Regions from separate parts of the Homo sapiens genome. Here all the other regions are linked to region 2. The links come from fine-mapping of genetic effects on gene expression. A gene starts in region 2. Each other region holds a variant in brackets. All regions are shown on one strand. Distances are between the middles of the regions.

Region 1 (8,177 bases), 790 kb before region 2:
GTTTACAGTGGATATTTATCCAACTTAGACTTCCAGCAGAAGAGAGGTTTACCTGTTTCCGAGATGCTACATCTCCTCCTTTTAGCCCTTTTTCTACTTTGTCTACTTTTCAACAGTGCAAAATTGTTTTAGCCAAATAGGCCAAGACCTCATCTGCTTTGTTTCTGGCAAACTGCACATCTCTAATACCCAACAAGAAAGATAAAGGATCATCATATATACAGAAGAGCAACAGCACTCTGGGAAGTGGGGGAAATATCAGACCCCTTGGTTTTTTGTTTTTGTTTTGTTTTGTTCATAGAGATGGGGTCTCACTGTTACCCAGGCTGGTCTCAGATTACTGAGCTCAAGCAATCCTCCCTCCTTGGCCTCTCAAAGTGCTGGGATTACACGTGTGAGCCACCATGCCCAGCCAGTTCCCTTAGTTCTTTCTGCTCATTGAAGAGTCAAGAAGCAGAGGTCAGGGAGAAGGCACCAAGCCAGAAACCAAGACCTTGAATGGTGAATTTGGTCTGCCCAGAACAGCAGCCTGACATCTCTTGGGGACACCCTCCACCCAACTCACATAACCCTGGATGAGGGATTCTCCTGGCATATGCTGGCCTCTGGGCCACAGAGGTAATCATGTGATTCTGGCTGAGCCAATCACAGTACCCCAGCTGCAGACCCTGCAATTGGCCCAAAGATGGACACATGACCAAAGCCCAACCAATCAAGCTCTGCCCCAAGACTTTTTATTAGGAAGCTGTCAAGGAAAAGCAGTCTCTCCTCAAGGATTACAAGCCTGAAGCTGCCTAAGCCTTGGACCTAGCTTCATGGGGAGAGTAAAACTAAGAAGGAAAACAGACAAGCGAAAGAGCATTGAGCTGACACTGAAGTCCCTGGCTCTCGTCATCCCAGAGAGCAGCCCACTCTGTGATTTGGTCAGAATGAGTGGATATTTGCAGCTTACCTCCCCACCATGCATTTCACCTCCTGCCCATTCCCCATTCTCAGCCCCAGTCTTAAGCCAATCAGCCAACTGTACTCCACTGGCCATATAATTGGCTCGGGGTGCTCATGTGCCCCAAGCCACACAGGATTCTTGCAAGAACTGTTGATAACTTTTTTCTACCGGACTCGGCAGTTATTACCAACTCTGCCAAGTTGCTAACAACTCTGCCAGTTTTTTGTCTGTCTGCTCTCAGATCCATTTCCCGCCCTGTCCTGTTCTGCACTGCAAGGACCACATTTCCCAGCCTCCTTTGCTCACCATCTTATCACTGTGTTTGACTAATGGGAGGCACTGGCAGAAGACTGGTTCTGGGAGGAGAGGGCAAGCCAGGGTATTTATTAGCCTCTCTATCTCTGCATGTGGTGGGTCTTCCGTAGTAGTTGTATCTATTCTCTGATTCTAGCCACTTCTGAGCAATCCAACCATGAACCTATGCGTTCCAGAGGGCTGCAGTTTCTGGACTGTAGTAATACCACCTCCTCCCTTTGTCCTTCTGGCCAAGTAGCAGCATCCTGTAGTTCCTAACTCCTGGTTTGCCTCACTATTTCCTATTGGCTTCTCAGCTCCTCTGTTACTCACGAACAAATTCCCTGTATTTACTTCCTTCTGAAGAATCTGGAATGATTTATTTTCCTTACTGGATTCTGACTTGCCACTACACAGAGCCTTGAGAATGAAGCCAATCCCATAGCCAAAAAACAGTAATATCTGATACTATCACTTGGGCCCCTGGATCCACCCATGCCTGAAGGCATTCCTACCATTACCATTTTTCACTCAGGTGATCCCATAAAGGATCCCCTAGCTAGTTCAAGTTAGTTCACTCAAGCTAATACAACTAGTTCACTCAAGCTAGTTCAAGTTAGAGTTTGTGTCACTTGTGGCTGGGCACGATGGCTCACACCTGTAATCCCAGCACTTTGGGAGGCCGAGGCAGGTGGATCACCTGAGGTCAGGAGTTTGAGACCAGCCTGGCCAACATGGTGAAACTCCGTCTCTACTAAAAAGATAAAAGTTAGCCGGGCATGGCAGCGGGCGCCTGTAATCCCAGCTACTCCGGAGGCTGAGGCAGGAGAATCGCTCAAACCCGGGGGGTGAAGGTTGCAGTGAACCAAGATCACGCCACTGCACTCCAGCCTGGGTGAAAGAGTGAAACTCCATCTCAAATTTAAAAAAGTAAAAAATAAAAAAAATTTAAAAAAAAAGAGTTTGTGTCACTTGTGACCCAAAAACTCCTGACTAATTCAAGTCCCTTCCTTAGGACAGCAGGGAGCACAGAATTCAATGTTCCCTGCATACCAACTCCAAAATCACAATCAAAACCTAAAAATAAGTAATGAGAATTTAAAAAAACAGAACTGAATGTTCATCAAAAATCTGGAGGGAGAACCTCCCGAAGCCAAGAAGCAATTAATAAAGTCACAGAGACAAAGGTGAAGAAATTAAACTACCTAAAAATTCTAAGGCTGGGCACAGTGGCTCATGCCTGTAATCCCAGCTCTTTGGGAGGCTGGGGTGGGCAGATTGCTTGAGCTTACAAGTTCGAGACCAGCCTGGGAAACATGGCAAAACTCTACCTCTACCAAAAAATACAAAATTATAGCTAGGAATAGTAGCACTCCCCTGTAGTCCCAACTACGTGGGAGGCAGAGGTGAGAGGATGGCTTGAACCTGGGAGGCGGAGGTTGCAGTGAGCCGAGATCTCATGCCACTGCACTCCAGCCTGGGTGATAGAGCCAGACTTTGTCTCAGAAAAAAAAAAAAAAATTCTAGATTTCTATACCTTAAAAAATAATAATAAGGGCCAGGCGCAGTGGCTTATGCCTGTAATCCCAGAACTTTGGGAGGCTGAGGCAGGTGGATCACCTGAGGTTAAGAGTTCGAGACCCGCCTGACCAACATGGTGAAACCCCATCTGTGCTAAAATTACAAAAAAATTAGCCAGGCACGGTGGTGCCAATTACCTACAATTCCCGGGTCAGTATCCAAGACCCTCCACCAGCCAGGAACAGTCACGGGGTCAGTATCCAACAGCCTCCACCAGCCAGCAGCAATCGCCTGGTCAGTATCCAAGACCCCTTGCCAATTATTCACAATCACCAGGTCAGTATCCAAGACCCTACACCAGCTATCAGCAGTCAACAGATCAGTATCCCAGAAACACCAGCCATTACCTACAGCCACGATTTCAGTATGCGAGGTGCTTCACCAATTTTCCAAACTCGCTGCTTCAGTATCCAAGGCTCTCACCCCCTGACTAATCATCAATTATCCCCAGCAACAAAGATCATGACCAAAACTACCTGTCAACAACCGAGACTGCCCATTTAAGTGTTCCAACCCCCAACTTCCAAGCCTGGGCCATTGTCAATGTGCTCCCATCACTTACCTACGGCCCC[G/A]AGCCCAGTATCAAAAGCATTGAATCAGTTACCTGGGAGTCCCAGGAGAGTCTGAAGGCAAGTGTGCTCAGCTCTGAACTCAACCAAAGTCCTCTAGACAACATGCAAAACCTCTCATTGTGCAGCTCCATTGAGATCAATTCTGGCAGGTATGAGGCAGTGCCCAGGCCGGAGGCCAAGTTCTGAGCTAGACTTCTGGGGGAGGAGAAGCAGTGCTGTGACATCTCCTGCCTGCATGAGCACAGCCAGGATGCTTGGAAGGCCTGCCCTGCCCTCACCACTCCTGGGACCCATCGCTCCACTTTATCCCAGGGACCCCTCCACCTGTCACAGAATGGTTTCTTCCTTTCCTGCAATGATCTTCACAGGTATTTTATGAGTCTCACGGCCCCAGGGTGGTCCTCCCAGCCACAGGATGATCCTCACTGACTGAAATGATCCTCACTGACTGAGATGGTCCTTACTGCCCCAGGATGGTCCTCACAGCACTGGGATGGTCCTCATTGTCATAGGATAGTCCCTACTGCCCCAGGATAATCCTCACTGCCCTGGGATAGTCCTCACAGCTCTAGAATGGTCCTCACTGCTCCGGGATAGTCCTCACTGCCCTGGGATACTCCTCACTGCTCTCGAATGATTCTCACTGCCCTGGGATAGTACTCACTGGTCCAGGATGGTCCTCACTGCCCTGGAATAATCCTCACTGCCCCAGAATTATCCTCACCACCCTGGGATGGTCCTCATTGCCTGAGATGGCCCTTACTTCCATGGGATGGTCCTCCCTGCCTGGGATGGTCCTCACTCCCTGGGATGGTCCTCCCTGCCTGGGATGGTCCTCCCTGCCTGAGATGGTCCTCACTGCCTGGGACGGCCCTCCCTGCCTGGGACGGCCCTCCCTGCCTGAGATGGTCCTCCCTGCCTGGGATGGTCCTCCCTGCCTGGGATGGTCCTCCCTGCCTGAGATGATCCTCCCTGCCTGGGATGGTCCTCCCTGCCTGAGATGATCCTCCCTGCCTGGGATGATCCTCCCTGCCTGAGATGATCCTCCCTGCCTGAGATGGTCCTCCCTGCCTGAGATGGTCCTCCCTGCCTGGGATGGTCCTCCCTGCCTGAGATGGTCCTCACTGCCTGGGATGGTCGTCACTCCCTGGGATGGTCCTCACTGCCTGGGATGGTCCTCACTCCCTGGGATGGTCCTCACTGACTGGGATGGTCCTCACTCCCTGGGATGGTCCTCCCTGCCTGAGATGGTCCTCCCTGCCTGAGATGGTCCTCACTGCCTGGGATGGTCCTCACTGCCTGGGATGGTCTTCCCTGCCTGAGATGGTCCTCACTGCCTGGGATGATCCTCCCTGCCTGGGATGGTCCTCCCTGCCTGAGATGGTCCTCACTGCCTGGGATGGTCGTCACTCCCTGGGATAGTCCTCACTCTCTCGGATGGTCCTCAATGACTGGGACGGTCCTCACTGCCTCAGAGGGTTCTCACTGCCCTAGGATTGTCCTCACAGCCCTAGAGTGGTCCTCACTTCTGGGAATGCTCCTCACTGCCCACCCCACTTCTCACTGCCCAAGAAGCTGCCCTCACCAACCTAGAGGTAGATCCTCAGTGCTGGAAGTATCAGTCTCAATGTCTCTTCTCTGGAGCCCAATTTAAATTTTCCTAAAATGAGAATAAATAATTTGCAAGGGAGGAGCTTTGAGAATACTCCCACACCAACTGGTGACCCTTGTCCCCATACTCAGAGCCTGGGCCAATCATGGTGTTCCTGATTATCTTCCTTCCCCAGACTTGCTGGACCTTTCCTGGGCCTTCCTCCTCTTCTCCAGCATCACCAGCTTCTGCCTTTGCATAGCCCTAATAAGCACCATCCTCTTTACCGGCTCCAACCCGTCCATGCTGGATTTCTTCACCTTCATCACCAGCATCCTGACAGGCATGGCACTTCCCTCAGGAACCAAGGCGAGGAGTACCTCCTCCAGTGCCAATCATGAAACCCAATCCCATCCCCACCACACTCCAATCCCATCCCCATCCTGACCATCATCCGCAATCCCAACCCCATCTCCTTCCAAATCTCTAACCCATTCCCATAAAAAACATCAACCACCAGCCCAACCCTATCTCCAGCCCCAATACCAGCCTCCACTTCAAGTCCCATCTCCATCACCAACAAATCTCAAACTCATTCACATCCCTTTCCCTCATGCCCCTACTCCATCCCAATTCTACATTCTTTCCAATCACCAAACCATCCTCATTACCATCCGCAACCTCTTCAAACATCTCAACAACCAACTTTGCAGCATCCCAACCATCCTCAACATATGTTTCAAATGCAACCCAATTCTATCACCTGTGAACTTCAATGCCAAACTCAATCTAGTCCATTCCCCACTCCATCCTCTTACCCATATCCAATCCATTTTCATCCCCAACCATGACCTATCCTCATCCACAACCCACTCCCATCACAACTTACCCCCAACCACCACCCATCCCCACCACAACCCTTCCCCACCACAATTCACTCCAACCACAACCAACCCAAACCACAACCATCCCATCCACAACCCACCCCCAACCATAACCTATCCCCACAACAATCCACTTCCAACCATAACCCATCCCCATCCTCATCCCCAACCACAACCCATCCCCATCCCAACCCACCCCCAACCAGACCATCCCTGTTCCAACCCATCCTCAACCACAAACTACCCCATTTCAACCCATCCTTACCCCTAACCATAACCCACCCCCAACCACAACCCACCCCAACTACGACCCACCTTCAACCACAACCCATCCCAACTGCAACCTATTCCTGACACCACTCTCAACCTCGTCCTCTAACACTCAAACTTCAACCTCTACCCAATACCCAATCCTATTTCCCATTCTAACCTCATCCCAAATCCTGTCCCATCAGCAGCAGCAGCTCTGTGATTTTGTTCAAGCTACTTCATCTCTCCAAGCCACAGTTTTCTCATCTGTAGGATCAGGACAAAATTTGCTACCACATGGAAACGTACTGAGGATTGAATTAGAAATGTCAGTACTTGGCCGAGTGCAGTGGCTCACACCAGCACTTTGGGAGGCCAAGGTGGGTGGGTCATGAGGTCAGGAGTTCGAGACCAGCCTGGCCAACATAGTGAAACCCCATCTCTACTAAAAATACAAAAATTAGCCAGGCGTGGTGACGCACGCTTGTAGTCCCAGCTACTTGGGAGACTGAGGCAGGAGAATTGCTTGAACCTGGGAGGCGGAGGTTGTGGTGAGCCAAGATCACGCCACTGCACTCCAGCCTGGGCAACAGATTGAGACTCTGTCTCAAAAAAAAAAAAAAAAAAAAGCATTTATGCAGTTTATCTAGTAGCTCTTCCTAATTGTTTAAATATAAAGTACAAGGTATAGAATATTGCGCAAAAAAAGCATGAGTTTTCTAAAAACTATAAAAAACACCTTCGTTTTAAACCATCTATAACAGAACATTTTTCTATAAGAAAACCATTTCTGTCTATTCCTCCTTTTAATTAAACAAAAAATACCTTCTATATTATTTTCAATAACATCAGACAAAACTACCCAGTACTCCACTGTCCAGGGGAAAAAGTCTTTTCCTATTCACAAATTATCTTTAATTCATGTCATTCCAATATATCCAGAATGACCAAGTTCCTTGTCTATTGCTTCTGAAGCCCTAAATTAAAGACCCAATAGAATGAAAATAATCAATCCCAATCCCTAAGGGCTTGCTGTGTATCAGGAAATGTGCCAACCTCAGTAACTCCTCATGACGGCCCAAGGAGATGGGTCCTATGATTGTGCCCACTCTACAGATGAGGAAACTGAGGCTCAGAGATATGGCATGGCTGCCCTAAGTCCAGAGGTGGAGGCAGGGAAGATCCCTGCTGTTGGCCTCAAAACCTGTGGTTACAGACTTACCATTGCCTGGTTAAAGCCCAAGGCTTGCCCTTTCAGTGTCCTCTAGCAGGACTTGGTCAGAAGCCCATCTTCATGCTTAGGAGCAAAGGTACAGGGTCTGGGAGGTTAAAGAAAGTGGGGAAATAATGAGCCAGAGCCAGGCAGCCACATGACTATGGGAAGGAGTCCTTACATATCTGATTCTCAGCCTCCTAACACCTGTGCTCATGCAGGAACCAGCATCGTACTGGGTATCCTGTTCTACCTGCTGCAGGCCCACAGGTACCTGCAGGAAGGCATGACCTACCAGCTGGCACTCAGCTTCTACCTGACCTGGGCCAGTGTCTTCCTCTTCCTGATGACTGGTATGGGAGAGGATGAGGTTGGCTTTGGGTATGGGTTCAGGGATGCAGACAGGAATAGCATTTGGGATAGCATTTGGGACGGGGTGGGGTTGTGGACAGGGCTAGATAGGAAGTGACTGAAGTGGGAGGCGGGATTGGGGATGCACATGGGGCTGGATAATGGGGATGGGACTGGGTTGGAGTTTGCGTATGGGTTAGGGACAGTGTAGGGGATGAAGGTGAGTTTCGGTTTGGAGATGGGTTTGGGAATAGGTTAGGGTATGGAATGGAATTGGTGATGGGTTTAAGAATAGGTTTGGGGATGGGGTTTGATGCAGAGCAGGGCATGCAATTGGGCCTGGGGACAGGACTGTGATTGGGATTGGGTGGGTGAACTCTGTGTCTCATCTCCTGTGCCCTCTTCCTCTCCACAAGGCTTCTTGTCCTATCTGAATTACATGTACTTCTGGTCTATCCTGGCGCTCCAGCCCATCCGGACCTAAGACACGCGAATG
Region 2 (8,177 bases):
AAATACAATAACAAAATTAGCCAGGCATGGTGGTGGGCGCCTGTAGTCCCAGTTACTCAGGAGGCTGAGGCGAGAGAATGGTGTGAACCCGGGAGGTGGAGCTTGCAGTGAGCCGAGATGGCGCCATGCACTCCAGCCTGGGCGACAGAGCGAGACTCCGTCTCAAAAACAAAAACAAAAACAAAACAAAACAAAGTCCCAGCGCAGTGTGGATCAGGCTGCATTTCATAATTGAACACTTTACCCTAGAGAAAAGTATCATCGTTCATTCTAGGTAGAATAATTTAAAGTTATATTTAAAAAATACCCTGTAGTAGTTCAGGTAAGGCACGGACACTAAATTTATGAAAAAAAATTTGTTGTTCTGAGTTGTCCAGATTTTTGAGACTACAAATATGGGAATATGGTAGACCTACAATAAATGCTAATTCTACTGAACAATGAGTTTTTCTACATGTCAGAGGTTAAGCCTCAACCTACGAGTATAACTCAGTTGACAGATATTTGGCCCATAATGTTTGTTGGCAGACAGAATGTTTTGAAAGAAAATTCAAGCATGGCTCACTAGTCTCAAACTTGAAAATTGGGAAATTTCACCTAAAAATTATGTTTCCAACTTCTGAAACATCCTAGGATTTGGCAACATTGGGTCTACATCCCACGAAGTTAGTTCACTGGTGCCCATTTAAAGCTCCCCCACCAGTGCTAGGCAAGTGGGGGATGCTTATAATCCCAGCACTTTGGGAGGCTGAAAGGTGTTCGAGACCAGCCTGGGCAACGTAACAAGACCTTGTTTCTAAAAAAAAAAAATTAAAAATGAGCAAGTTGTGGTGGCACGTGCCTGTAGTCCCAACTACTTGGGAGACTGAGGTAGGAGGATCGCTTGGGAGGCTGAGGTAGGAGGATCACTTGAGCCCAGGAGTTCAAGGCTGCAGTGAGCTATGATTGTGTCACTGTACTCCAGCCTGAATGACAGAGAAAGATCCTGCCTCCAAAAAAAAATTAAATTTGTTTTTTTTTTTTTTTTTGAGACGGAGTCTCGTTCTGTCGCCCAGGCTGGAGTGCAGTGGCGCGATCTCAGCTCGCTGCAAGCTCTGCCTCCCGGGCTCATGCCATTCTCCTGCCTCAGCCTCCTGAGTAGCTGGGACTACAAGCGCCTGCCACCACGCCCGGAGAATTTTTTGTATTTTTAGTAGAGACGGAGTTTCACCGTGTTAGCCAGGATGGTCTCGATCTCCTGACCTCGTGATCCACCCACCTCGGCCTTCCAAAGTGCTGGGATTACAGGCATGAGCCACCACACCCGGCCAAAAAAATTAAATTTAAGTTTAAAAAGCGGCTGGGTGCAGTGGCTCATGCCTGCCATCCCAGCACTTTGGGAGGCCAAGGCAGGCGGATCACCTGAAGTTTGGAGTCCAAGACCAGCCTGATCAACATGGTGAAACCCCCGTATCTACCAAAAATACAGAAATTAGCCAGGCATGGTGGTGCACGCCTGTAATTCCAGCTGCTTGGGAGGCTGAGGCAGGAGAATCGCTTCAACCGGGGAGGTGGAGGTTCCAGTGAGACCGAACTCCAGCCTGGGTGACAGAGCGAGACTCTGTCATCAAAAAAAAAACACAATTCTCCCCTTCAGATGAGGCAAGTGCTCCCCAAGGCCCCGCAGCCTCACCTGGACCAGTTCTCTTCTTTCCTGTATGTCATCTGCCTGGCCCTCACAGACAGCTGAGCTTGAGATCCCTGTCTGCAGTTACCAAATCACATTCTGCCCACATCTCATATACTCTCAGCTCTGGGAGGAAAGAAACGAGGGCCCAGAGGTGGAGCCCAAGGTCATCCAGCCCAGAGTGACTTAAGCCAAACAATTATCAGGCTGAGAGACCTTGGGCCCAAGAGTCTTGCCCTTCCTTCCAGACCATTTACCTTCTCTAAGCCTTAGTTTCCACATGTACCAAATGGAACAAATACAACAGATCTATGGTCCTTTAAATGCTCCAAAAACCAGAACTTGATTTATAAACTGACCGCAAAACTTCACCTGGATTGCCACAGGCCATGTAGGGTCTTAATGTTCTCATAAGTGTGAATATTCACACCTTGCCCCACAGAAACATTTTATGACCAAAAACTGGCCCAGATTCCTCGGGGTGTGGGGGGGTGCTGCCTAATTATAAAATATGCACCCTATTAGCTTTCTAAAATCTGAAAAATTCTGATTCCCGAGATTGCCTTGGTGCCAAGGGGACCTGCACTTATGTCTCAGTGCTGCTGCGGGGATCAGAAGAGGAAATGCAACTCCAGCAGGGCGCCTGGCACACAGAAAGCACTCAAATACTGTAAATGTTAAGTACTTCAACTTCCCGAAGAACTCCCATCCATCGTCCAGCAAGATTCTGCCTAAATTTGCCAACTTCAGGTAACTCATTCCCCTCCTTCCCCAACCAAAACCAAAATAAAACAGAACCACTCCTCTCAGGGCCATCAGGGAGGCCTGGAAACCCCTTTAGCAGTTTTCTTTTCTTTTCTTTTCTTTCTCAGCTCACTGCAACCTCTGCCTCCTGGGTTCAAGCAATCCTCCCACCTCGGCCTCCCAATTAGCTAGGAATACAGGGGCGCACCACCACGCCCGGCTAATTTTTCTATTTTTTTCTTCTTTTGTGGAGACAGGGCTTCACCATCTGGCCCAGGCTAGCCTCGAAATCCTGGGCTCAAGCGATCCGCCCACCTCAGCCTCCCAAGGTGGTTTTCTTCCTTTCTTTTTTTTTTTTTTTTTTTAAGATGTAGTCTCGCTCTGTCACCCAGGCTGGAGTGCAATGGCGCGATCTCGGCTCACTGCAACCTCCAGCTCCTGGGTTCAAGCGATTCTCCTGCCTCAGCCTCCTGAGTAGCTGGGATTACAGGCCCCCGCCACCACGCTCAACTAATTTTTGTATTTTTAGTAGAGACTGGGGGTTCGAGGAACTCCTGGCTGTAAGTGATCCCCCCCGCCAAGGCTTCCCAAAGTGCTGGGATTACAGGCGTGATCTACCGTGCCCAGACCTTGAGCGGTTTTCATAACAGACTGTGAAAGACGGTTCACACCTTCACCCTGACAACCGCCGCCCAAGGCGACGCACCCTTTGCCGAAGTCGCCCCCACTTGCATTCCGTCACCTCTCAGGAAGGACCGAGCCCGCAAGTCCCTCAGCCCCAGCGTCTCCGTACCTCGGGATTGTAGTCGGCCGCGTCAACAGACGCAACCCCAGCCTCAAGGGAGCGGGAGATTCAACTCCCCGCACACGCGCCTCCTCGCAGCGACTTCCTGTGCGCGAGAAGCTTCTCTGAGCGGCTGCACCCAGGATCCTCCGCGGCAGCGCCAGGACTCTATTTCCCAGAGGGCTGTGCGGGCGACTTCTTTCGCCTTCCCATCTCCTCCTGCTTCTTCAGCCTTAGCACTGTGGGAGTAGAGTAGAAAGAGAATCAGGACCAGGCGGCATCAGTTTGTAGTCCAGATTTTTACCTTGTTAAAGAATCATCTAATTAGCTTCTTGCCTTTACTAGAAGTCAGGGAGTGTTAACCTTTTCCGAAGAGCAAGCGGTAGGTTGCCATGGAAACGCGTTGTGACGGGTTTCTGAGAAAACAAGCGGAAGTAAGGGGCGGAGTTGAGGCAGAAGTTTAGGTAATGTGACCTCTGATTGGTGGAGAGGTACCTCACGGTGCATTCCGATTGGTCTGACACTGACACATGCGCAGTAGAACCAGAAGGCGTTCCAAAGCGGCTAGAACGGAGGGGAGGGGGATGAGCAATGAGGGAATAATCCCCATTCCGTCTGGAATCAGAGGGCGGGCCTGCCGCGGAGGCATCTGGGAAACGGAGTTCCCAGGCAGGCGAAGCCCAGGGGCCGTCAGGAAGTCAGCGGCGCCTGCGCGGGCGCCTCAGATTCAGGATGCGCGCGCAGCGCTCTCCGCCCAGCGGAAGTTTTCGCTGGGCAACTGAGAAGGTGAGTCCGGGTAACTGCGGAGGATCCGAGGGTCAGGCTGCAGAAGCCCAGAATCCCACCCCAGTCCCCAAGTACAGAGGTGAGGGGAAGCGAGGCGAACGAGGGGACGTCCCCCGACCCCCTAGCCGCAGCTCGGCCGGGGCGTCCGTGACGTCAGCACGACCGTTTGTGGGAGGCGGAGGCCCCTGCTGTCGGGGTTCGGAATGAGAGCGGCTCCGGGTCGCGGGGTTCACTGGCCTCCTCTTGAGCTTCCCAAGCCACCTTGGGCTCCGTGTTGGGCATGGCTAAGGCGGAGATGGGCGGAACTTGTGGGAAGTTCGACAGCTCCTCCGCTGTGAAACTTGGCGTCTAAGTCATCCCGTGGTTTCTATGGAGGTGCGGCCGAAGGGAGGCTCTGTCGTCGCCTAGGCAATCGCCCCACCTGCGCTGAGGTGGGGTCTGACTTTTAGCCTTTTTGCTGTGCTGTTTCCTGAACTTTCTAGGAGGAACACTATACAGTAGTTGACGCATAGCAGCTGTTCCCTAAACATTTGTTGAATAAGTCAAATAAATTAAGATAAAGACTGGCCTGAGGGTTGGAGTCTTAGGGTTTCAAGTCCTGACCTGGCCATTGCATAGGTGACTTCAGCACATCCAATTTTATTGAGCGTTTACTATATGGAAGGCTCCGTGCAACCGATATTACACTACTATAACCTGGGTTTGAACGGTGCTAGTCTAATAGGCACTGTTCAAGCCCAGGTTATTATAGCAGTGTCTAAAACAAAAATCCTGCCCAGCTAATTCACATTCTCAGGGTGGTTGGGGATGCCAGACACTAAAAAAGAAATGTTAAAGAATATTTACAGGTCTGCAGTCCCTTATCTATAACTTTAAAATCCAAAACGTTCTGAAAACTGAAAGGTCTTTTTCTCTGTTTTGCAACTTACTTGGCAGGCCAACCTCACCTGGCTTTGAACTTGTTTGCTGGCAATACCCACTCTGAACTGATGTGTGACTATTTAGAATTTTTAAAGATTTTGTTGTGCAAATCATATACTTATGGAGAGTTGCCCCTGGATCTCGCCGGTGTTGTAATATGTAATAGGTTCTAAAATCCAAAAAATTTGGCTGGGCACGGTGGCTCCCGCCTGTAGTCCCAGCACTTTAGGAGACCGAGGTGGGCGGATCACCTGGGTTCAGGAGTTCGAGACCAGCCTGGCCAACATGGTGAAACCCCATCTCTACTAAAAATAAAAAAATTAGCCGGGCATGGTGGCATGCGCCTGTAATCCCAGCTACTCGGGAGGTTGAGGCAGGGAGAATCGCTTGAACCCAGGAAGCGGAGGTTGCAAGTGAGCTGAGGTCGTGCCACTGCTCTCCAACCTGGGTGACATAGCAAAACTCTGTCCATCATGCAATACATGGCAGAAGCAAGATCCAAACCCAGGCAGATTATTTCCCAAGTTTATCCTCTTAACCCCTGTACTGATCTGCTTCTAAGTGGCACGTCTTTTTTAGGGACCATCCAGCTAGATAATTCCGGCCCTGAGCTTTGAGTCTCTGGCTGGATGTCTAGATTTGCCTGAGAGATGAATGTGTACTGACACAGCTGGGGACCCCCCCCACCCACCTTCTTGGCACATTTTCTTTTGCAAAGGAGACAATGATTTATTCACTCAGCAGACGTAGACCCAGCATTTGCTCTGTGCCAGGCCTGTTTGAGGCTCTGGGCACACTGTGGCAAACAAGGCAGGGAAAAGTCCCCGCCATCATGAAGCTTACATTCTAGTAAGTCAGAGTATGTCAGGTAGTGACAAGCACTGTGAAGAAAAATAAAGCAAGGTAAGGAGGATAAAACATGCTATTAGTAAAATGGTGTCCAGGGCCAGGCACGGTGGCTCGAGCCTGTAATCCCAGGACTTTGGGAGGCTGAGGGGGATCACCTGAGGTCAGGAGTTTAAGACCAGCCTGGCCAACATGGTGAAACCCCATCTCTACTAAAAATATAAAATTAGCCAGGCGTGGTGACACGCATCTGTAATCCCAACTACATGGGAGGCTGAGGCAGGAGAATCACTTGAACTCGGGAGGCAGAGTTTGCAGTAAGCCGAGATCGTGCCATTGCACTCCAGCCTGGGCGAAAAGAGCCAAACTCCATCTCAAAAAAAAGAAAAGAAAAAACACAGTAAAATCGTGTCCAAGAAGGTCTCTGAGAAGGTGACATTTGAACAGAGAGCTAAAGAATGTGATGAGGAAGTTAACTGTGTGCACTCTTAGGGGGACAGCGTTCCAGGCAGATGGGAGAGCAGGTGCAAAGGTCTTGGGGAAGAAACGTTCTTGTCACGATTGGGGAAAAGCACCGAAGCTGTTGTGGCTGACTCAGCGTGAGCAAGGGGAGAGGTGGGAGAGGTCAGAGAGGGAACAGGGAAGTGGCAGATCATACAGGGGGCTCCTGGGCCATGGTAGGAATTTCAGCATTTATTCTGTCTAAAATGAAATCCACCATACGGTTTTGAGTAGAGGAGGGACAGGGTCTGACTTACATTTTATTTATTTATTTGTTTATTTATGAGACTGAGTCTTGCTCTGTTGCCCAGGCTGGAGTGCAGCGGTGCAATCTTGGCTCATTGCAACCTCTGCCTCCCAGGTTCAAGCGACTCTTGCGCCTCAGCCTCCCAAGTAGCTGGGATTACGGGTGCCCACCACCACGCCCGGCTGATTTTTTTTTTTGTACTTTTTTAGTAGAGACGGGGTTTCACCATGTTGTCCAGGCTGGTCTGGAACTCCTAACCTCACGTGATCCGCCCACCTCGGCCTCCCAAAGTGCTGGGATCACAGGCGTGAGCCACCGTGTCCGACCCACCATATGGGCCAGGGCAGGGACACAGACAGGGTCTGACTTAGATTTTAAGTGGATCCGTCAAGCTACTGGGTTGAAAATAGATTGTAGGGACAAGCGTAGAAGCCGAAAGTCTAGTTAGGAGGCTGCTGCAGTAGCACAAGGGAGAGATGGTGGCCTAGACCAGGCTGGTGACGGTGTCAGAACCGGGGGTGGCACATGGTTAAAAGACTCTCTTGCCGTGGTTCCACACCCAACATCAGCTTCCAGATTTAAATCTACAAGAATGTTCTGACCTGCTGCCCCAAGAACCCAGTCCGGTTTTGCGTTTTCGTTGTATAAATTGGCACCAGGTGAAGAACATGGGCTTTTGGGTTCTGGATTTCAGCTGCGTCCCCACTGTTTTCTAGGTGAGTGGAGTCAGGTCTGGGGGAAGGAGAATTGTCACCCTTTGAGCATCATTTTGTAGGTTTCAAAGATGGGATAATCATCCCTACCTCATAGAGTGGAGGGAAAGATTAAACAAAATCATGTGTCTGGCTCGCCGCTTAAGAGGTTTGTGGCCCTGGGCAAGTCATTTGCTCTCTGAGCCTCTGCTTCTCATCTCCCCAAAGGGGAAATCATTCTTACCTTGAAAAGGGTGATTGGGAAGGTTCTGTAGATAATACCTGCCGAGAACTTAGCACAGTGGTCTGCACATACTGAACTGTCATGAAATGAGAACCGTCTTAAGTGAGTGACTTGACCTCTCTGTGCAGCAGGGACTCCCTGTCCCGGTTACTATGTCTAGAGAACAAATCGTCCCACAATTCACTGGTGTAGAACCACCATTTCTTGTGCCCATGGATCCTATGGGCCAGGAATTCAGAGTGAGCACAGTGAGGTGGCCTGTTTCTGCTCCCCAGTGCCTGTGCCTTAGCAGGAAGACTTGAAGGCTGGGGTTTAAGTGGTCTGAGGACTTGCCCACTCACCCAGCAGCTGATGGTGGCTGTTGGCCAGGGGCCTCAGTTCCTCTCCACCTGAGCCTCTCCATGTGGTTTCTCTGCCTGGGCTACTTTAGGCTGCCTCATGCCGTGGAAACTGGCTTCCATGGGTGAGCATCCTGAGCGAGCCAGCCAGGTGCAAGTTGTTTTTTATGACCCAGCCTGGGAAGTCTCATGGCCTTACTGCTGCCGGTCCTCTATTGGTAGGAGCAGTCACAGCTCTGCCGAGATCCAAAGGGGGAGGAACAGAGACCCTGACTCCTGGGAGGAGGGGTTACAAGGTTCCAAAGAGCACACAGGACCAGAAATAGTCATGTGACCTGCTTTGGAAAATACAAATGCCACACTCTCCTATGAAGTGGTGATAATTCTGGAACCTGCGTCCTGGGCTGT
Region 3 (8,177 bases), 46 kb before region 2:
CAGCCCCTCCTCCCTCAGATGCAGGCATCTCCACCCCCAGCCCCTTCCCTGTGGCCAGGCTGCTTACCCCTCACTCGGAGTTCTCTTTCTCTGATAGTCCTTTGCTGCCTTTTGTGAAGCTGGTCACAGTCTTTTCCTAAAGGAGAAAGTGCAGAAGGTTCGGGAGTGAGAGACAGAGAGTTGAAACAGATGCTAATCATCAACAGGAGAAGACGTCAATCCTGTTTCATTATTTAGGATGCGCTTTCTCACTTGGCCCTGAAGTGACGGACAGATGGTATTACAATTCCATTCTACAGATGGGGAAATGGAGGCACAAAAAAGAGGAGTCTCTGCAAATGCGAGGAGAGATGAGGCTGTAGGGATGAGTGGGGCAAGTCCTGCATGGTATCAGAGGGGCTGAGACTCTGTCCTGGGGCCACTGGGGAGCCACGGGAGGGCTGTGAGCAAGGAAGGGGAGGGGAAGCTCTGGGTGTAGAAGGATCTTCTGGGGCCACAGGGAGCATGAGGGGCTGAAATTCATGGGCAGTGTCAGGACTCGGCCTAGACTCTGTGCCGCCAGCGTTGCCCAACATGGGCAGTGGCTCACCAGAAACTCCTGGGAAGGTTGGTGGGATGAATTAATGAATGGATAAATGAGTGAATGACAGGAGGAGGGAGTAGCCTCCATCCTATCCACCTTAGTAGAGTCCCCGTCTTTTCCAATCTCAAATCTGAGTTCTGTGCCCAGCTGTTGGGTCCCTCATGATCACTGGAAAAAAGCCCACAGCAGGGCCAGACTAAATCTGGTGATGTGGTGAAAGTTTGCTGGAGACGTGATGCTGGAGAACTACTGGAACCTTCTCTCCCTGGGTGAGGCCCCTCCCTCTGCCCTCCCCCGGGGGAGGCCTGATGCCCCCGGCACCCTCTCTGATGCCCCCAGCCCTCTCTCTGATGCCTCCTGGCACCCTCTTCTCATTCATGTCCATCCCCTGCCATCTGGGGGCCTCTGTGCTCCTCTCACTGGTCCCTCACGCCTGGCCTCTCCCTTCCTCTCTTTCTGGGGGCCTCTCCCTTCCTCTCTTTCTGCCTGGAGTCCCAGCAGCCAGGAGGGCCCAAGTCCCTTGGCCTGTCCTGTAAAATGTGAGTCCCGCAAACTCTTCAGCCTGTGTCCCCAGCTTCTTCTTCTTCTTCTTTTTTTTTTTTTTTTTTTTTTTTTGAGATGGAGTCTCACTCTGTCACCAGGCTGGAGGGCAGTGGCGTGATCTCAGCTGACTGCAATCTCCACCTCCTGGGTTCAAGCAATTCCTCTGTCTCAGCCTCCCGAGTTGCTGGAATTACAGGCACACACCACCATGCTGGCTAATTTTTGTATTTTTAGTAGAGACGGGTTCACTGTGTTGGCCAGGCTGGTCTGGAACTCCTGACCTCAGGTGATGTGCCCACCTTGGACTCCCAAAGTGCTGGGATTATAGGCGTCAGCCACCGTGCCTGGTCATCCAGCTTCTTCTAACGCTTTCCCTTCCACACATGGTGACCTCCCTGTCCCCGGACTTCAGGCTCCACACTGGAACGCCCAGTCCAGAATCTCAGGCTCCAAGCGCCTCCCGGACATGTTCCCAATCAACAGGTCCCAATCTGACCTCGGCATCTTCTCCCCAGAGCATATAAACGCTGTCCCCTAGTGTGTCTCCGAGATCCTGCACTTGCCCACCTTCCTGCCTCCAGGCATAGCCCTCCCCACCTCCCACCCCTCACATCCACCCCACGCCGAGCTCAGTTCACCCACCGTCCTGCTTCTCTTCCTCCAGGTCCCCACCTCTGGTTGGCCCCACATCCCCCCAGGTCTCCAGACCAGACCCCCGGGCACCATCCTCGGCCCTGACTTGCTTAGTTTGAGCTGCTCTAACAAAATGCTGTAAACTGGGTAGCTTCTAACAGCAGAAATGTATGTCAGAGTTGGCCGGGCACGGTGGCTCATGCCTGTAATCCCAGCACTTTGGGAGGCCAAGGCGGGCAGATCACGAGGTCAGGAGATCGAGACCATCCTGGCTAACACGGTGAAACCCCATCTCTACTAAAAATAAAAAAAATTAGCCGGGCATTGTGGTGGGTGCCTGTAGTCCCAGCTACTCGGGAGCTGAGGCAGAAGAATGGTGTGAACCCGGGAGGCGGAGCTTGCAGTGAGCCGAGATCGCGCCACTGCACTCCAGCCTGGGTGACAGAGTGAGACTCCGTTTCAAAAAAAAAAAAGAAAGAAAGAAAGAAAGAAATTTATGTCAGAGTTTTGGAGGCTGGGAAGTCGAAGATGAAGGCGACAGCAGACTTGGTGTCTGGTGAGGGCGCTTCCTGGTTCATAGACGGCGCCTTCTCTCTTTTTTTTTTTCTTTCTTTTTTTTAATTGAGTCAGAGTCTTACTCTGTCACCCAGGCTGGAGTGCAGTGGCGCAATCTTGGCTCACTGCAACTTCCACCTCCCGGGTTCAAGTGATTCTCCTGCCTCAGCCTCCCCAAATAGCTGGGATTACTGGTGCCCGCCACCACACCCAGCTAATTTTTTTGGTATTTTTAGTAGAGAGGGGGTTTCACCATGTTGGCCAGGCTGGTCTTGAACTCCTGACCTCAGTGATCCACCCACTTTGGCCTCCCAAAGGGCTGGGATTTACGGGCATGAGCCACCACATCCGGCCGACAGAGGCTGCTCTCTATAGCCTTACAGAGTGGAGGAGCAAGAGAGCTCTCTGGGGTGTCTTTTGTAAGGGCACTAACCCCTGCCACGAGAGCTCTACCCCCATGACCTAATCGCTTCCAAAAGGCCTCAGCTCCTAACACCATCACCTGGGGACTAGGTTTCAACTTATGCATTTTAGGGGGATGCCAGCAATTCTGCTCACAACATCCCCTACTTCCCCTTGTCCACAGGACCCCTCAGGCCACAGCCCTGCCCTCCTACACCCTCCTTACCATCCCCACGGCCCCAGCCCTGCCCAGGCCTCGTCTTGCCCCTGCACCTCAGCACAGCCCCCTTGCTGGTTTCACTTCCCACCTTCCTGGACCTGTCGTTCTCCGTCTTTATGTTCCCCTGTAAGTAGCTGTGGTGATGTGACGTCTCCATCCTCAGCCCTCCTCACTCACGCACTTTCTCTGGACAAACTCATCAAAAATGTGGCTTAGGCTGGACGCAGTAGCTCACATCTGTAATCCCAGCACTTTGAGAGGCCGAGGCGGCCAGATCATTTGAGGTCAGGAGTTTGAGACTAGCCTGGACAACACAGTGAAACCCCATCTCTA[C/T]TAAAAATACAAACATTAGCTGGGCATGGTGGTGGGCACCTGTAATCCCAGCTACTCAGGAGGCTGAGGTGGGAGAATCACTTGAACTTGGGAGGCGGAGGTTGCAGTGAGCTGAGATCTCGCCATTGCACTCCAGCCTGGGCAACAGAGTGACTCTGTCTCAAAAAAAAAAAAATGTGGTCTCATTAAAAACGTGGCCCAAACTTCTCCATCAGGGTCGGTCCCCAAGACCACCACAGGTGACTGATTTGTTAGCGGGTGCCAGGGACTCAGCCCTTAGTTAAACGCTCAGTGATGGTTTATTACAGAGAAAGGAGACAGCACAGCTGGCAAAGGGGAAGGGCACCCGGGGCGCCATCCAGGAGAAACCAGGCCAAGCTTCCAGAACCTTCTCCCAGTGGAGCCACATAGGATGGTTTAATTCTCCCAGCAGCAAGAGGTGACAACACATGGGAAATGTTATCACCAGAGAAGCTCACCAGAGACTCAGGGCTCAGCATTTTTTTTTTTTAACAGGATCTCTCTATATTGCCCAGGCAAGTCTTGAACTCCTGGGCTCAAGCTATCCTCCAGCCTCTGTCTCCCTACGAGCTGGGATTACAAGCGTGAGCCATCGTGCCCGGCTGTGCTCAGGGTTTTTCCTGGGGGTTGCTCACACAGCCCCCTCTACTAAAATGTACCCAAATTTTAGACTCCTGGGAAAAAAGCAGGTGTTCAGCATAAACCATGGTGTTTGCACAAACAGTTTAGGGCTGGGCACAGTGGCTCACGCCTGTAATCCCAGCACTTTCGGAGGCCAAGAGAGGAGGATCACTTGAGCCCAGGATTACGAGTCCAGCCTGGGCAACATAGTGAGACCCCTATCTCTAAAAAAAATTAAAATTAAAATTAAAACCACAAGCAACTGAGGCTCTAGTGAGCCCCACATCAGTTAGGAAATTCTGGGAACCCTCCTAAAGTCCAGGTTGCTGGACCTCAGCCTAGGGTCTACCTGGCCATCAGGACTTTCCAAAGGGAGCATCTCAGGCCGGCTGTGTTCACCCTTTTCCACACATCCACAATGGTGTCCCTTCAATGTGTCCCATGAGTTTCAACCTTGTATAGCTTGTGGCCTCCACAATACCACCATGGGGAAGGCTCAGGACCCCACACTCCCTGTCTCCCCTGAGCGGGTCATGTCACCCCCAAACTCATTCCTCCTTCAGGTCTCCCATCTCAGAGACAGACCCCTGCCCACCCAGAGACCAGGCCAGGCCAGTCCAGGGCACTGACTTTTTTTGTTTTTTTGTTTTTGAGACGGAGTCTCGCTCTGTCTCCCAGGCTGGAGTATAGTAGCACGAGCTCTGCTCACTGCAACCTCCGCCTCCCAGGTTCAAGCGATTCTCCTGCCTCAGCCTTCTGAGTAGCTGGGATTACAGGCATGCACCACCACACCCAGCTAATTTTTGTATTTTTAGTAGAGATGGGGTTTCACCATGTTGGCCAGGCAGGTCTCGAACTCCTGACCTCAAGTGATCTGCCCACCTCAGCCTCCCAAAGTGCTGGCATTCCAGGTATGAGCCACCACACCCAGCCCAGGGCACTGTCTTTACCATCTCTTTCATACCCGTATGTGTCCTGGCCCTGACACTCTCCCCAGTGTCACCACTTTCTGTTCCCCCACTGCCTCACTCTGTGGTGATCACAGGAAGGTTGTCTTTTTTTTTTTTTTTTTTTTTTGAGATGAAGTTTTGCTCTTGTTGCCCAGGCTGGAATGCAATGGCGCGATCTCGGCTCACCACAACCTCCGCCTCCTGGGTTCAAGCGATTCTCCTGCCTCAGCCTCCCGAGTAGCTGGGATTACAGGCATGCACCACCACATCCGACTAATTTTGTATTTTTAGTAGAGACAGGGTTTCTCCATGTTGGTCAGGCTGGTCTCGAACTCCTAATCTCAGAGATCTGCCCACCTTGGCCTCCCAAAGTGCTGGGATTACAGGCATGAGCCACTGCGCCTGGCCTTGTCTTTTTTTCCTTTTTTTTTTTTTTTTTTTTTTTGAGACAGTCTCACTGTTGCCCAGGCTGGAGTGCAGTGGTGCGATCTCAGCTCACTGCAGCCTCCACTTCCCGGGTTCAAGTGACTCTCCTGCCTCAGCCTCCCGAGTAGCTGGGATTACAGGCGCATGCCACCACGCCTGGGTAATTTTTGTAATTTTTAGTAGAGACAGGGTTTCACCGTGTTGGTCAGGCTGGTCTCGAACTCCTGATCTCAAGTGATCCGCTGGCTTCGGCCTTGAAAAGCGCTGGGCTTACAGGTGTGAGCCACGGCACCTGGCCAGAAGGTTGTCTTTAAGATGGCATCTGTGACAGCACATGCGTCTGCTCACGGGCACGAGCAGTAGGGGCATGGGGGAGTGTATCCTGCTGCTGCCACAATGCACAACCACAAACGTGGTGGCTTATGACAACAGCCATCAGTTCTCTCATGATTCTGGACCAGAGTCTAAAACCAAGGTGACAGCTCGGCCACGCTGCCTCCAAAGGCTCCAGGGGAGGGTCCTTCCTCACCTCTTCCAACACCTGGTGCCTCCTGGCATTTCTTGGCTGGTACCCGCCTCCCTTCTTTCTCTGCGTCTGTGCCATGTGGCCTCTTCCCTCCGTGTCTGTGTATCCTCTTCTTCTTCTTCTTTTTTTTTTTGGAGATAGAGTCTTGCTCTGTTGCCCAGGCTGGAGTGCAGTGGCACGATCTTGTCTAGGGAGGCGGAGGTTGCAGTGAGCTGAGATCGTGCCACTGCACTCCAGCATGGGAACAGAGAGAGACTGTCTCCAAAAAAAAAAAAAAAAAAGACCTTAGTGGCAATGCCTTCTTGGGCACCAGCACCCAGGTCAGAGGCTGTTTGGCTCTAACCACAGCAGGGCTGTTACCTGGTGAGCTCAGTGCAGGCCAAGAGGGACAGGGCAGGTAGGGGTGCAGGCAGGGGAGTGGTTACAGGGATGGGTGGTAAATGCCAGGCTGGAGAGTGGAAGGTGAAATCATGGGAGGCAATACATGGTGAGGGGGCTGCAGTATCAGAAGATTAGCTGTCCTGGGTCCCTGCTCCTCTGTCCCCTGACTGTGGCAGTTAGAGGCAGACCTCATGGTTCACCCAGCCACCAAGCCAGGCTCTAGGGCACCCTCCTTGTCCATGGAAGGATAGCTGGAGTCAAGAACTGGAGAAAGGTCAGGCACGGTGGTTCATGCCTGTAATCCCAGCACATGGGGAGGCTGAGGTGGGAGGATTGCTTGAGGTCAGGAGTTCGAGACCAGCCTGGGCAACATAGCAAGACCTTGTCTCTACAAAAAACGTAAAAATTAGCGGGATGTGGTGGCATGCACCTGTAGTCCCAGCCACTCGGGAGGCTGAGGTGGGAAGATGGCTTGAGCCCAGGGAGATCAAGTCTGCAGTGGGTTGTGATTGTGCAACTTCACTCCAGCCTGGGCAACAGAGCAAGATCCTGTCTCAAAAAATAAAATTAAAATAATAAGATAAAGTATAGTGGAGAAAGTCCCCGGGAGGCTGGGAGGTGGGAGGGGGTGTCTGACACCAAGATGTGGAGATTTGTGTCATTATCAGAGATGAAGGCTGTGACCATAGGCCTGGGCACCTAAGACAGAGGGAGGACAGGATCCTTGTAGGAAAGGAGTCCCGGAGTCACCCTGGATTGTAACTGTGTCCAGGTCTGCCTCCCCCTTCAGCCTGAGACGCCCTCAAGCACAGGGGAGTGTCCAGATCATTTCTGTATCTCCAGCAGTGCCAGGGAGTGGCACAGGGAGACCGGGAGGCCTTTGGGCATGTTTTTTTGTTTGTTTGTTTGTTTGTTTGTTTTTTAGACAGAGTCTTGCTCTGTCACCCAGGCCAGAGTGCAGTGGCGCGATCTCGGCTCATTGCAACCTCCACCTCCCAGGTTCAAGCAATTCTCTGCCTCAGCTTCCTGAGTAGCTGGGATTACAGGTGCCCACCACCACGCCCGGGTAATTTTTGTATTTTTAGTAGAGACAGGGTTTCACCATTTTGGCCAGGCTGGTCTTGAACTCCTGGCCTCGTGATCCACCCGCCTTGGCCTCCTAAAGTGCTGGGATTACAGGCATGAGCCACCGTGCCTGGCCAGGCATGTTTGTTGAACCAAAATTCATCTCCTCCTCACCCCTAGTCTAGTCACCTCTTGGCTCACCTCCTCCAGGAAGTTTCCTTTGATTTCTGCACCCTCTGTGACTTCCTGCAGTGTTGCGTGTTTCTTCCATTCCTGCTCACACAACACTAGACTGTGCCTCGGTTTCCTGCCTGAAGGGTGAAAATGAGGTACTACATTTAACCAGCTTAGAAACATGCCTGGCATGTAATCTGCGCTTAATAGACATTCACTTTTTAGTATCACCCTAACTATTGTAATTACTTCATGTTTTAATCAGGGATGGTATGTTTGTCTACAGTGATTCAAGACAGTTTCATCAAAACGAAAATGTCTGGACTGGGTGCAGTGGCTCATGCCTGCAATCCCAGCACTTTGGGAGGCCAAGGCGGGCAGATCACCTGAGGTCAGGAGTTCGAGACCAGCCTGGCCAACATGGTGAAACCCGTTTCTACTAAAAATACAAAAAATTAGCCAAGCATGGTGGCAGGCACCTGTAATCCCAGCTACTTGGGAGGCTGAGGCAGGAGAATTGCTTCAACCCAGGAGACGGAGGTTGCAGTGAGCCGAGACCACACCATTGCACTCCAGCCTGGGCAACAAGAGTGAAACTCCATCTAAAAAAGAAAAAAGGAAATGTTCAGGGTGGGTGGATCACTTAAGCCCAGGAATTTGAGATCAGCCTGGGCAACATAGTGAGACCCCATCTCTATAAAAAATTTGAAAATTAGCCAGGTATGGTGGTGCATGCCTGTAGTC

What was found. PIP is the estimated chance that this variant, and not a neighbour inherited with it, causes the effect.
Region 1: its variant is fine-mapped to the expression of VRK3 in monocytes after LPS (Kim-Hellmuth 2017, PIP 0.95).
Region 3: its variant is fine-mapped to the expression of VRK3 in whole blood (TOPMed, PIP above 0.99). The same link has a PIP of 0.9 or more in esophagus muscle and pancreas.

Annotation. Positions count from the first base shown.
Region 1 is chr19:50,808,133-50,816,309 of GRCh38, reverse strand. It overlaps the pseudogene TMEM277P. Among named protein-coding and RNA genes, the nearest start is that of SNORD88C, 9.8 kb to the right of the region's middle. The variant G/A (reference allele first, on the strand shown) is at 3,394.
Region 2 is chr19:50,021,149-50,029,325 of GRCh38, reverse strand. It overlaps VRK3 (VRK serine/threonine kinase 3), which reads left to right and starts at 3,954. Exons shown (of 15, transcript NM_016440.4): 1 at 3,954-4,059. It overlaps ZNF473 (zinc finger protein 473), which reads right to left and starts at 3,321. Exons shown (of 5, transcript NM_015428.4): 1 at 3,204-3,321. RefSeq lists enhancers at 3,168-3,217, 3,628-3,677, 4,018-4,097, 4,147-4,648.
Region 3 is chr19:50,067,084-50,075,260 of GRCh38, reverse strand. ZNF473CR (ZNF473 cis regulating lncRNA) reads right to left here. Exons shown (of 5, transcript NR_138096.1): 3 at 7,461-7,570; 4 at 68-136. Among named protein-coding and RNA genes, the nearest start is that of ZNF473CR, 21 kb to the right of the region's middle. The variant C/T (reference allele first, on the strand shown) is at 3,270.